Homo sapiens: one gene and its partners. The protein of the gene in region 2 interacts with the protein of the main gene of each other region in a biochemical or structural test. Each region holds a gene or a part of one and is shown on either strand. Other genes may lie near its edges. The genes, in order: ZNRF2, ATP1A1 and ZNRF1.

What was found.
Region 1: of the proteins of ATP1A1 (region 2) and ZNRF2, one has a biochemical effect on the other in vitro, tested with the Homo sapiens proteins (one study listed by BioGRID).
Region 3: of the proteins of ATP1A1 (region 2) and ZNRF1, one has a biochemical effect on the other in vitro, tested with the Homo sapiens proteins (one study listed by BioGRID).

What each region holds. Positions count from the first base shown.
Region 1 is NC_000007.14:30,350,532-30,354,282, forward strand, and holds part of ZNRF2 (E3 ubiquitin-protein ligase ZNRF2), read left to right. Parts: intron 1-229; exon of another isoform or gene 230-306; intron 307-3,751. UniProt on the Homo sapiens protein: E3 ubiquitin-protein ligase that plays a role in the establishment and maintenance of neuronal transmission and plasticity. Ubiquitinates the Na(+)/K(+) ATPase alpha-1 subunit/ATP1A1 and thereby influences its endocytosis and/or degradation.
Region 2 is NC_000001.11:116,397,127-116,400,877, reverse strand, and holds part of ATP1A1 (sodium/potassium-transporting ATPase subunit alpha-1), read right to left. Parts: intron 2,991-3,751; coding exon 2,840-2,990; intron 2,258-2,839; coding exon 2,089-2,257; intron 1,949-2,088; coding exon 1,794-1,948; exon of another isoform or gene 1,564-1,793; intron 1,459-1,563; coding exon 1,335-1,458; intron 18-1,334; coding exon 1-17. UniProt on the Homo sapiens protein: This is the catalytic component of the active enzyme, which catalyzes the hydrolysis of ATP coupled with the exchange of sodium and potassium ions across the plasma membrane.
Region 3 is NC_000016.10:75,100,003-75,103,753, forward strand, and holds part of ZNRF1 (E3 ubiquitin-protein ligase ZNRF1), read left to right. Parts: intron 1-3,751. UniProt on the Homo sapiens protein: E3 ubiquitin-protein ligase that plays a role in different processes including cell differentiation, receptor recycling or regulation of inflammation. Mediates the ubiquitination of AKT1 and GLUL, thereby playing a role in neuron cells differentiation.

The DNA of each region.
Region 1 (3,751 bases), on a different chromosome or scaffold from region 2:
CTTCCCTTTGTTAAATATCATTTCTAAGCCTATTTATATTTGAGTACAGTAATAGCTCATGGATCTGTAATTGAAAGAATTAGTTAATGTTACGTTCTTTTATACGTATAAGAGATAACTTAATATCTGAAAGTATTTATTATTAAAACTTGTGAGCCCCAACTTTTTGTTCTTTGAGTAATTGCTTTTCACTAATGTTGTAAATTTTTTTAATTCTTGATTTTTCTAGGGATTATTTCACATTTCAGCTGCTTTTGTTTTCTACTGCTATCATTGAGGGTTCAAGAACAAAAAATAAGTCTTCAGGTAAAATGCCTGATCCATAATAGCGCTTGGCGTTGTATTTTGCTGAAAAGATCATATACCTGTTTGGATGCTTGATCTGAAAATAAAGTTGTGATGATTATGAAATTTTCGCATGAAGTTTCCTTGGCTGCCTAACAAATTCAGTCTTATTTGTTGGTTTGGTTTTTTGTTTTTTTTTTTAAAGAATTTTGGCTGTTTGCTTTTTTTTTTTTCCATGTCGTCTTGATCTGCAATAACTATATGGATATGTGCTTGGACCTGCTAAGTATTTTAATTTTGCATATTTGGCTGCTTGAATTTTAAGTAATTTCTTTGGACAATGCAAATTTTAAGAGCTTGAGAAGCTGTAAGTGAAATATCAAGTAACAGAAGTTTGTAACTAGTTTATAAATGTATATTCATTACCTATTATATATTTTAAGGTTTCATATTTTACCAAAATTAAATTAAAAATTCAGTTTCTCAGTTGCACAGGCCACATTTCAAGTGCTGTTTTCAGGCCATATGTGGCTAGTGGTTACCATTGTGGACAGCACAGATAAAAGATGTTTTTTCATCACCGTCCATAGTTCTATTGGACAGAGCTGTTTTAAATTGTGTAAGCAGTTAATTGTAAGGTCGTTTCAGTTATTTTATCCAGAAGATAAAGCGTGTGACCAGTCTTGAGAGTACTTCCTCTAAATATGTAGCTTGAGTATTTAAAACTTAGTTGTTTAAAACAGTCCAGTTGCTTTGGTATTTACGTTGCTTTAAAGTGAAATTGTTTCTTGTAGCAGAATTCATGAAGTAGGAAAAATGCCAAGGACTTAGTCTAAATTTGAATCCTGACCTCAGGACTTAGTAGTTTAGTAACTTCTGGTAAGTTACTTTACTTCTTTGAGCCTCAGTTTCCTTATGTGTAAAATGAAGGTAACAATAGTTACTTCATAGGATTAACATGTGACTTAAATATGTCAAAAGCACATTAAAAAGTACACGTTTTTAATCCTTTTAAAATATAGAATGAAGCCAAAACATAAATTAATTAGACAGTGTCATATGCTTGGAGTTGTTCCCAGCCTGGCAGTTATAATAGGCGCCTAAGTTCCTGGTCTTCATGGAGTTATTTGATGACATTGTTCAGGTTTGAAACAAGTGGAATACCAAGATGGAGAGAAAAAGAAATAGGAAGATGACTGACTTTGTTTTTGGAGAGGTGCATGAAGTACTATCTGATAATAACTAACATTTTGTATAGTGTTTTTTTATAACTTATAAAGTTTTTTCACACAATTCTTTAAAATTTCATCTCTAATATTTTGAGTACTTTTAACAGAAGAATAAAAGGAAACTTGAGGTTGACGAACATTTTTGTTCGTGAGAATGGAAATTCATATTAAGTTTTCAACTTTAAATCTTAGGCTCTTTCTACTTAAACAAGCTATTCTTTGATAGCAGTCGCATTTGTGAGGCAGGCATATATTTCAGAATCTCCAGGGGTGGGACTCAGGTACATATAATTTTTTGGTATATGTTGAAAATGCACCCATTGAAGTGATTCTAGTGCCCACTTCTGGTTAAAAATCGTAATCATTGCTCTTTTCCAGTCTTTTAACTTTTCTTTTCCTGTAATCAGTACATCTAAATTAATGCATAGATTACATGAATAAGACAAGGCATTAAACTGATAAGCAATGCGCTCATTTAACTTTTACTACTCTAGATGTTGAGGTATGAGCAATAACACTTTTTAAAAAGCAACATGTTTAGTTCCCTGTTGACAATCTCTTGTGTCTCCATTGATCATAGCTTGTGGAGGAGGAATCCAGACTAGCCAACTATGGTAGTTAAATCTGTGAGTGTTCCCTTCTCTGCTTCTTTAATGAGTTTTGGCTAGTTAGTAGTCTACCCCAAGATATTCCAGTTCTGAAGTGTTGACTCCTTAATCCCTGTGGGTGTTATCTTCATAAATGTTTTCAACTGATCTTTAGATTTTTAATCTTTTCCCAACTGTCTTGAAGATGCTTTAGTATCCTGGGTTTAGTGGTATTTCCAGGTCCTGTTTTTAAGTATGAATGTATCACATTACTAACAAGTCTTTCACAATTGTGAAATGTAGTTACCTATGTGAAGGCAAAAGCTCAAAACTTTCCTCTGAATGAAAGTGTCATTATAGGGGTGAGAGAGGGGACTACTCTAGCAAACCCCCAGGTAGGCAAAAATTAATCACATTCCACAGTGAATTTTCAAAACTGAAAATATTTTTAAACATACAAAGACACATTCTAGTGGAAACAAGACTTTAAAATGTGAAAATTAAGCATTTGCTATGTGAAGCTGTAATCATGAGGTTTTGAAGTCAGAGTGAACTATCTTCTAACTCAGAGTTGCTTATCAAAATGCAACTGATCAGTGGCTACAATATGTTAACATTAGCTTTTAATTTTCTGAGCAGAGATTATGTCACTAGAAGCTATTTTTAGTGGATATTAGGCTGTTTCTGCACTGAAATCAGTGTGTTCGGGATGTTTTTGTATACAGGTATACTTTTCTTGAACAGAAAATACAATTCTGAAGTACAGTTCTGATTATTTTTTATTGCTAGGGTTTAAGGGAGCTTATTTTTTAAATGACTTTAACCCAGCATTCTGAATTACACTAAAAAGATTGTTTAAACTTAGTACCTGCAAAGCATCTGAGGGATAAGTCTCGCCCCTGTCAATTTTAAAATAGCATTGTGTTCTTAAAATATGTATCATTCTGTTAATTATAGGCAGGTTGGATTTGTCTTTGTTGTACTATAAATTTTCTTATAAATAGGATAAAATGTAGACCTTTTAAAATATTCTCATCTCAAAGACTTTGAAGAGCTCTGAAAATGAGATGCGTCTAAAATCGATGTTGCATCATAGTTTGGTGGAAGCATTTTTTTTTTACTTGGTGGTATATAAAGCTAATGGTGCATATTATGACCATTGATGTTTTAGGTTTGATAAAAAGTGGTGGTTAACTTTTTGAAGGTGGTTGTGAAACTTACACTCACATAATTCTTTGATAAGAATGGTATACCTTTGTGATGAAAAAATACGTAAGTGGTGAGAATATACCATATTACTTGGAATTATAGACCTTTACCAGGTTTTTTTAGTGTCTCCTTTAGATCCTTTTTCTTTTTGTTCTCACTGCTATCAGTTAGATGCTTCACGTTAAACTTGTTCCCTATCTGAATCTCCTATTGAAAGATACTAGAACAATAAGAGAAAAATGGAGATCAAGAGAATGAGAAAAGGCATGGGGTGCAGGATGGGGTAGGAGTAGTGGGTAGGATCTCTAGGGCCAAGAGAAAAAAAAATGGGGAAAGGGAGGGCACTTCAGGGAAGTGGTAATAACATTTTCCGTTTATCCAGCTTTGCTTGTCCAGAAATCTTTACCTGCTTAAGTTTCTGACTGTAATATATTAGCTTGT
Region 2 (3,751 bases):
CAGGGCCTGGATCATTCCTAAGTTGGGAAAACAACCCAATTACTAGAACCTCACACACAAGGGTACCTGTATAGCCTTCAGCTGATTACTGCAGCAGGCCTGGGAGAGCACATATGGAGGAGTGTTTCCCCCTGGTTGATAAAAGCACAGGAAAGAATTGCCTGGTCACTCACAGGCTATGAGGGATGGGATGGAGGACCCCAGGCATACACTCCAATCTCAGGGCCCTCTGCTTTTTGAGTCACTTTTTGGAGCCTACACAAAGACACATGTGCCTTGCTCTCAAAATGCCCACCTGTTACTTGACCAGCTGCTTCTAAGGGTATGACCTTTAGGGGAAATCCACTTCCCTACTTTTTAATCTCTGACAAATGATAACTTCTTTTCCATCTTTCAAAATTCCTACATGCTGCCATTTTTCTAGCCACTGTGGCACTTTCTGACTCTCCTCCCCACCTTCAGGACCCTCCTCCCCCTGGCATCCAATTTAACCACGCTGCTCCAAGTTCCTCAGGGCAGGGTTTCATCCTAAACCACCAGAGACCTAGTCTTCCTTCCTCTCAAAAGCAGGCCTCCTTGGAGAAGGTCAGGATGGGCCACCAGCCAATTACTTTGTTGCCAACAACTGTCTAATGAATCTTTGCCATAATTTCCACAATATTCTATCTAATCTGTTCTTCTTTATCCAAGCGTTCACAGTTATGTGACCCATTAATCCAGGAGAATAAGACATCCATGGTGGCTTTGCCAGGTTCTCTTGAAGGAACCCTAGGCAGAGGATTTAAAAACAAATGGCATGCTGATTGCCCACCACCTGGATCACCTGTTAGCTAGTCATGCTGCACTGTGGGGGCAGAAGTCCAGTGTGAGGTGGATGGAGGATCACCCTTTGGTGGTGACCTACCAGCCAAACTCTCAAACACATATACTTTCTCCAATGCCTAACTCCATCCAAGTGAGTGACAGATAAGTGTGTATCTCCAGGGAAAGCAGCCTGTGCGTCAGTACACACAATTCCTTAGAACCATGCCTCCTGTTCCGCAAGGCTCAGTGAGGAAGGACATCCTCATTTCTCAGGCAGAGTTGAGCCCAGTTCCAAGGTGCTCAGTATAGAAAACCAGTTTCCACAAAAGGTAACTGGGCAAACAGCAACAGATGTATTCTCACATGGAAGAGAGTTCAGAGAAACTCCACAGGCTCACTCCGTTAGGGCTCATCCTAGACCTGAAAGTCGCCTGGATTTGCAGTCTCTGAAATCAACCTCAACCTGAGGTGGACACCATCACCTCAGATGCCTTAGATGTGCCAGCTTCCCACTCCAGGCTGCAGCTTACCAATCTGCCCATAGGCCATGCTGATCAGCCGCTCATTCACAAGTTTGTCTGTTTTGGGATTTCTGGGCTGTCTCTTCATGATGTCACTCTCAGCCTGCTCATAAGCCAGGGAGATGGCAGGAACCTGGGAAGGGGTGGGGAGAAGGAATTTAGTTACTAAAAATAAGGAAGCTAATATTGTGAACCTTTTGTTATAAAATTCTTGCCCTCCCATTTAAAAATCTTTTAGGTGAAGTATACAAAAATAAAGATTCCCATCTGATAAACAAATGTTAACTGCTGCCTTGAAGAGTGGTAATACTGATTCTGTGAAGCCGGGATTGGGACACACACTGGATACTGGTCCTGAGAATTTCTTTTCCCAACGCCAGCCTCATGGATGCTGGGAGCATAGTGCCAGTGAATGAAGACACAGCTCACACCTCACTACTATCGATCTGTGACTGTTGTGACACTCACCATGTCAGTGCCCAAGTCAATGCAGAGGATGGTGACAGTCCCCAGTGGTAGTGGAATGTTTGCAATAATAAATATCAGGAACGGGGTGATCTCGGGAATGTTACTGGTTAAGGTATAAGCAATGGATTTCTTCAAGTTATCAAAGATCAGACGACCTATGAAAACCAAGATTTTTTACTGTTAGCTTATGAGACAAGCACACTGGAAACTGAACATATCCAAGAAGTATACAGAAATGGATGCTAATGGGCAGTATCTGAATAAGATCTTGGTGTACACCTTAAATAGCTCTCACCTTCCTCTACTCCAGTCACAATTGAGGCAAAGTTGTCATCCAGAAGAATCATGTCAGCAGCTTGCTTGGACACATCTGAGCCAGCAATCCCCATAGCAACCCCAATGTCTGCTTTCTTCAAAGCTGGAGAGTCATTCACACCGTCACCAGTCACAGCCACGATAGCACCCTACCCCAGAAAAGGGAAAACGGGTTAATACCAATCACTTTTCCTAGCGATGGAAATAGTGCGATGCATGCCCCCACTGAGCACTCATTACAGACACTGCTCCTTTCCTATTGAGACTATTTATGAAGCCTGAGAACCGTCACAGGCAAGTATTCACACAGGCCCTACACCAAATAACAGAACTGAGAAGTGACAACAAACATAGCCCCCAGCATTAACAAGAGCTACTCAAAGTAATGACTCTGGTGGGTGGCACTCCAGAAAATGCCATTCCTGTATGCACGCCCTGTAGTCTGACCACTCACATCTCTATTGCAAATACTAGGACCCCATATCAGATGACTCCACGGAGCGGTCAGGCTCTGGGACACAGTGGACACCTGGACTTTAAAGTGCTTCTGTCACTGCTAAACCATTAACAAGTCACCCTCTCTATGCCTATGAGCTTCCTACTGGCCTATTTATACTGAGTCTAATACAGCGAGGTATGCATCCATCCATCACCGTTGCTCTGTTTCCACTGGAACTCCAATCCCTAAAGCCAATAGTGCCCAAAGCAGCCTGATCCTTGTGCTGGCTGACCTGTCTTTGGCAGCCTTCCACAATGATGAGCTTCTGCTGAGGGGAGGTCCTGGCAAACACTATCTCAGTGTGGTACTTCAAAATGTCATCCAGCTGCTCGGAGGTCATGTCCTTTAGATCACTGCCGTGTACTACGCAGGCCTTGGCATCCCTAGAATTAGGACAAAAAAAAAAAAAAAGTCACGCATCACATCACCAGCATGTGTCCATCACCTCAAGAGGGGATATTCTTATGCAGATCACTTTGTAAACAAAACAAAGAAGGAATTTTCCCCAGCACATAAAAGCTATTAAGTGTTCAGTACTTTACAGGTTACAGAGCATTTTCATATATTTTATCTCATTTGAGGCTCATGATGATCTCTAAGGCAGGCCTGTCTGTATTCTTCCTTTCCCTATCTTTATTAGACATGCTGAAATATAACCAAGTTTTAGCTGGGTGTGTGGCTCATGCCTGTAATCCCAGCACTTTGGGAGGCTGAGGTGAGTGGATCACTTGAGGTCAGGAGTTCGAGACCAGCTTGCCAAAATGGTGGTCTAAAAATTCAAAAATTAGCCGGGCATGGTGGTTGGGGCCTGTAATCCCAGCTACTTGGGAGGCTGAGGCAGGAGAATCACTTGAACTCAGGAGGTGGAGGTTGCAGTGAGCCAAGATCATGACACTGCACTCCAACCGGGATGACAGAGCGAGACTCCATCAAAGAAAAAAAGAAATATAACCAAGTTTTAGAAAGTGGCAGAGCTGATACAAGACCAAACCCTCCTCTAACCGTAACATAGGGTGAAAGGGCCCTAAACCTTAAAACAAAACCAATTTGCTATTATCTGTTTTACTTCATTGCCAAATGTCTCCTGTGTTTGCCTGAATGGCCTAAGTAATTGTCCCTTCCTTATTTTATTTTGTTAGTGTGG
Region 3 (3,751 bases), on a different chromosome or scaffold from region 2:
CTGCTGTGGAAGAATGCTGCTCCCTGGGCACTGGGCTCTGTGTGGGCACTGCTGGCTTCCCCATGCTGTCTGAGTCAAAGACCCTGACTCCTTCCTATTGCCGGGAACCTCCAGGTGGCCTTTTGCAGCCAGTGGCTCTTGGTCCCAGTGAAATGTGCTCCCTGCCGTGTGCCAGCCTGGTTGGGGTGCCTGCACATTTTAGTTCTTCCCACCAGTGCAGCAGACTCAGGCCAGCTGGTAAAGGCACAACACTGCACTGTGCATAAAACCGCCTTGTGGAGTGGTGAGGAAAGGCTGCCTCTAACCTTCCTCTGCTCAAGTCTGAGTCCTTTAGTGCACAGGCCTTCCGCCCCAGGACAAGAAGAATCGCCCTCGCGCCCCCTTCCCCTTCCCCTTCCCTTTCCCCTAGTGAGGTTCGGTGCAAAAAGAGAGTCAAGTCCAGTCTTGTCATAAAGCGCCTAAGCCTTATCCTCATACCTGCCTCTCCCTTCCCTGAATCCATCACCTCCTGGGGGGCGATGAGGGAGACCACATGTGCCCTCCTGGAGCTGACACAGATGGGGAGAGAACACACCTGGTGTGGGAAGCTGTATGGGACCCAGAGAATTCTAACTAGTCCCTTGGGCTCACAGTTGAGTTACCAATCAGTAGGAGAAAATGCAAAGATAAACTACTTAGGAATCAGTAATTGCCATGTTCCCAGGAAATCCTCCTTAAGTATGGAGGGGAAGGAATGCTTTAGAGGAAACTAAGGGCTATAGCCCATACGCTCATGTCATAGATGAGGTGTCCAAGACAAAGAGAGTGGGGAATACAGGTCCAAGAATGTCTGCATGACGACTCTGCCCTCACTAAGCTATGCTGTTTTTCCTCCCATCTCTGTTGAGGTTTTTCCCTCTGTTTTATTATGAAAAATGTCAAACACACAGCAAAGTTTTTATGTTTTTTTGAGACAGAGTCTCGTTCTGTCACCCAGGCTGGAGTACAGTGGCACAATCTTGGCTCACTGTAATCTCTGCCTCCCGGGTTCAAATGATTCTCCTGCCTCAGCCTCCCAAGTAGCTGGGACTACAGGTGCATGCCACCATGGCAGGCTAACTTTTGGTTTTTTAATAGAGACAGACTTTCACCATGTTGGCCAGGCTGGTCTCAAACTCCTGAGTTCAGGTGATCCATCTGCCTCAGCCTCCCAGAATGCTGGAATTACAGGCATGAGCCACTGCACCCAGTGTACGGCAAAGCTGAAAGCATTGTATAGAGAACACCCTTATTGCTGGGCGCGGTGGCTCACGCCTGTAATCTCAGCACTTTGGGAGGCCGAGGTAGGTGGATCACGAGGTCAAGAGATCAAGACCATCCTGGCTAACATGATGAGACCCCGTCTCTACTAAAAACACAAAAATTAGCCGGGTGTGGTGGCATGCACCTGTAGTCCCAGCTACTTAGTAGGCTGAGGCAGGAGAAACTCTTGAGGCGGAGGTTGCAGTGAGCTGAGATCATGCCACTGCACTCCATCCTGGCGATAGAGCGAGACTCCATGTCAAAAAAAAAAGAGAGAGAACGCCCCTATTACATAGCACATGCACCACCTGGAGTCTGCAGTGTACTAGACCCGTTTATCCATCCACCAACCCATCTTATCCTTCTGATGCATTTCATAGTAAAATGCAAACACCAGTATGCTTCCTTATCAGGGTTTTTAACTAAAGTAGTGCACATTCGAACGCTACAGAAATACATAAAAGGATTTTTCTCCAAGTCCTCCTTTCCTCTACCACTGTGAAAGTGTGTGCATCCTTCCAGACTTTGATCTGTGCCTACACATGCATTTGAATATGTATGGTAGCTAGTGCTTTCAAGCAGGGGGATCACACCCATGTGTTCATCCACTACTTGCCATGTTTGGAGTCTGAGGGGACAGACACTTCAGCAGCAGACTGTGCCATCTCCCTTCTCAGTTTGTGTCACCCTTTCAGGTGGGTCCTCGGGCTAGCCAGATGTTCTAGACAGAAAATGACCACAAGTTGTCCTGGTGGCCAGGAAGCTGAGAGTGACTTCTCTCGCAACTCATGTGCCTGGGGACTTAAGGATCGAATCGGTTCCATTTTATGCTTTTTCCTTGGGGTTCCTGGTGGGGGGCTTTGAGGAGCGGAAGCCATAGCCTTCTGGGCCCTGAAGAATCTTCATTTTATGGGCCCCAGGTGTTTGCCTTTCCACCAAAATAATAAGAGAACACAAAGAAACAGCAATGGGAAGGCCTCTTAAGCAGAGGGTCCCAGTCCCAGCCCCACAACCCACAAGCCCACTCATGAGGTGTGTGACTTCCTTGGGCTTCCGGATCCTCATTCGCAAAATGAGAATAACACTGGGTGCCCTGCCCAGCTTGGAAGATGGTGATGCTCAAAGGAAGACACGCACATGTGTTTGTCATTGGCAGTGTTCGGGACAGTTAAGTTCCTTTAGTGACGGAGAAGGGATCCTGCCACAAGCTCTGCCTTCTTCACAGCTGAGACACTGCTCTCCTGATATTTCTCCTGTGGCTTGGAGGACTTCTGGGTCGCCTTTTGTTCACGTCGCCTCTTTTCACCTGCCCTTCAAATATTCATGTCGGCCTGGGTTTGTCTTCTGCCTTCTTTGGATTTTGGTCTGAACTTTCTCCCTGGACTGCCTCTTTATCCCACATCCATGCCTGGCACCCATGTCTCTGTTCCAAACCTCAGCTCTAGGCTTCAGCAGCCTCCTGGAGGTCTCCATCAGCTGGCCGGGCCTCCTCCCACCCAACTCAGAATCCGTCCCTTCCTTCTCATGCTTTCCTCCTGGGCACCCTCCCTTAGTGCAGGCACCTGCTGTGTGTCCCGCTGCCCTCATCCGCACACGCAGGGCTGCTGCGCACTCCTTGTTGTCGGCCCCAGACACCACAGCAGAACACAAGGCTGTTCCCTGTGCCCAGAATCTCCCGTCCCCACCCCAGCTTCATCCATCCTCCACCTTCTCCAGAACCTTCCCAGATCAGCCCCCATCCTGATGAGGTCTCTTTCCCCATACCCTCAGCCCTGGGCCTGCGCGTGAGAAGATGTCCTGGAAGTCCTCATGCTGTGCCTTTTGATTTCCTTGTTCGGCATCCCTGCTAGTCTGTGAGCTGCTTGAATCCCGAGATCATGGCTATTCACTGTCGCCGGCACGCAGAATGCCATAGGACTTAATAAAAACCAGTGGGTTCCCATGGGTGCAAGTAGCTTCCTTCCATTCCTTCTTTTTGGGATGGTGAGCGGGGTCACTTTTGTTTCTTTCTTTTTAAACATTGAGATGAAACTCACCATAAAATTAACCATTTTTATATGTGCAATTTAATAGCATTTAAGACATTCACAACCCCCATCTTTATCTGGTTCTAAACACTTCATCGCCCCAAAAGAAAACCTCTGGTGTGATTCCACTTACATGAGGTAGCTAAAATACTCAAACTCATAGAAGCAGAGAGTAGACTAGTGGTGGCCAGGGGCTGGGCGGGGGGAAGGGGAGTGGTGGATTAATGGGTATAACATTTTAGTTATGCACGATGAGTAAGTTCTAGACATCTGCCATACAACATAGTGCCTACAGTTGACAATACTATGTTGTACACTTGAAGATTTGTTAAGAGGATAGAGCATATGTTAGTCTTACCACAATAAAATAAAGTTTTTAAAAGGGGAAAAAACGGGTCAGGCGTGGTGGCTCACACCTGTAATCCCAGCACTTTGGGAGGCCA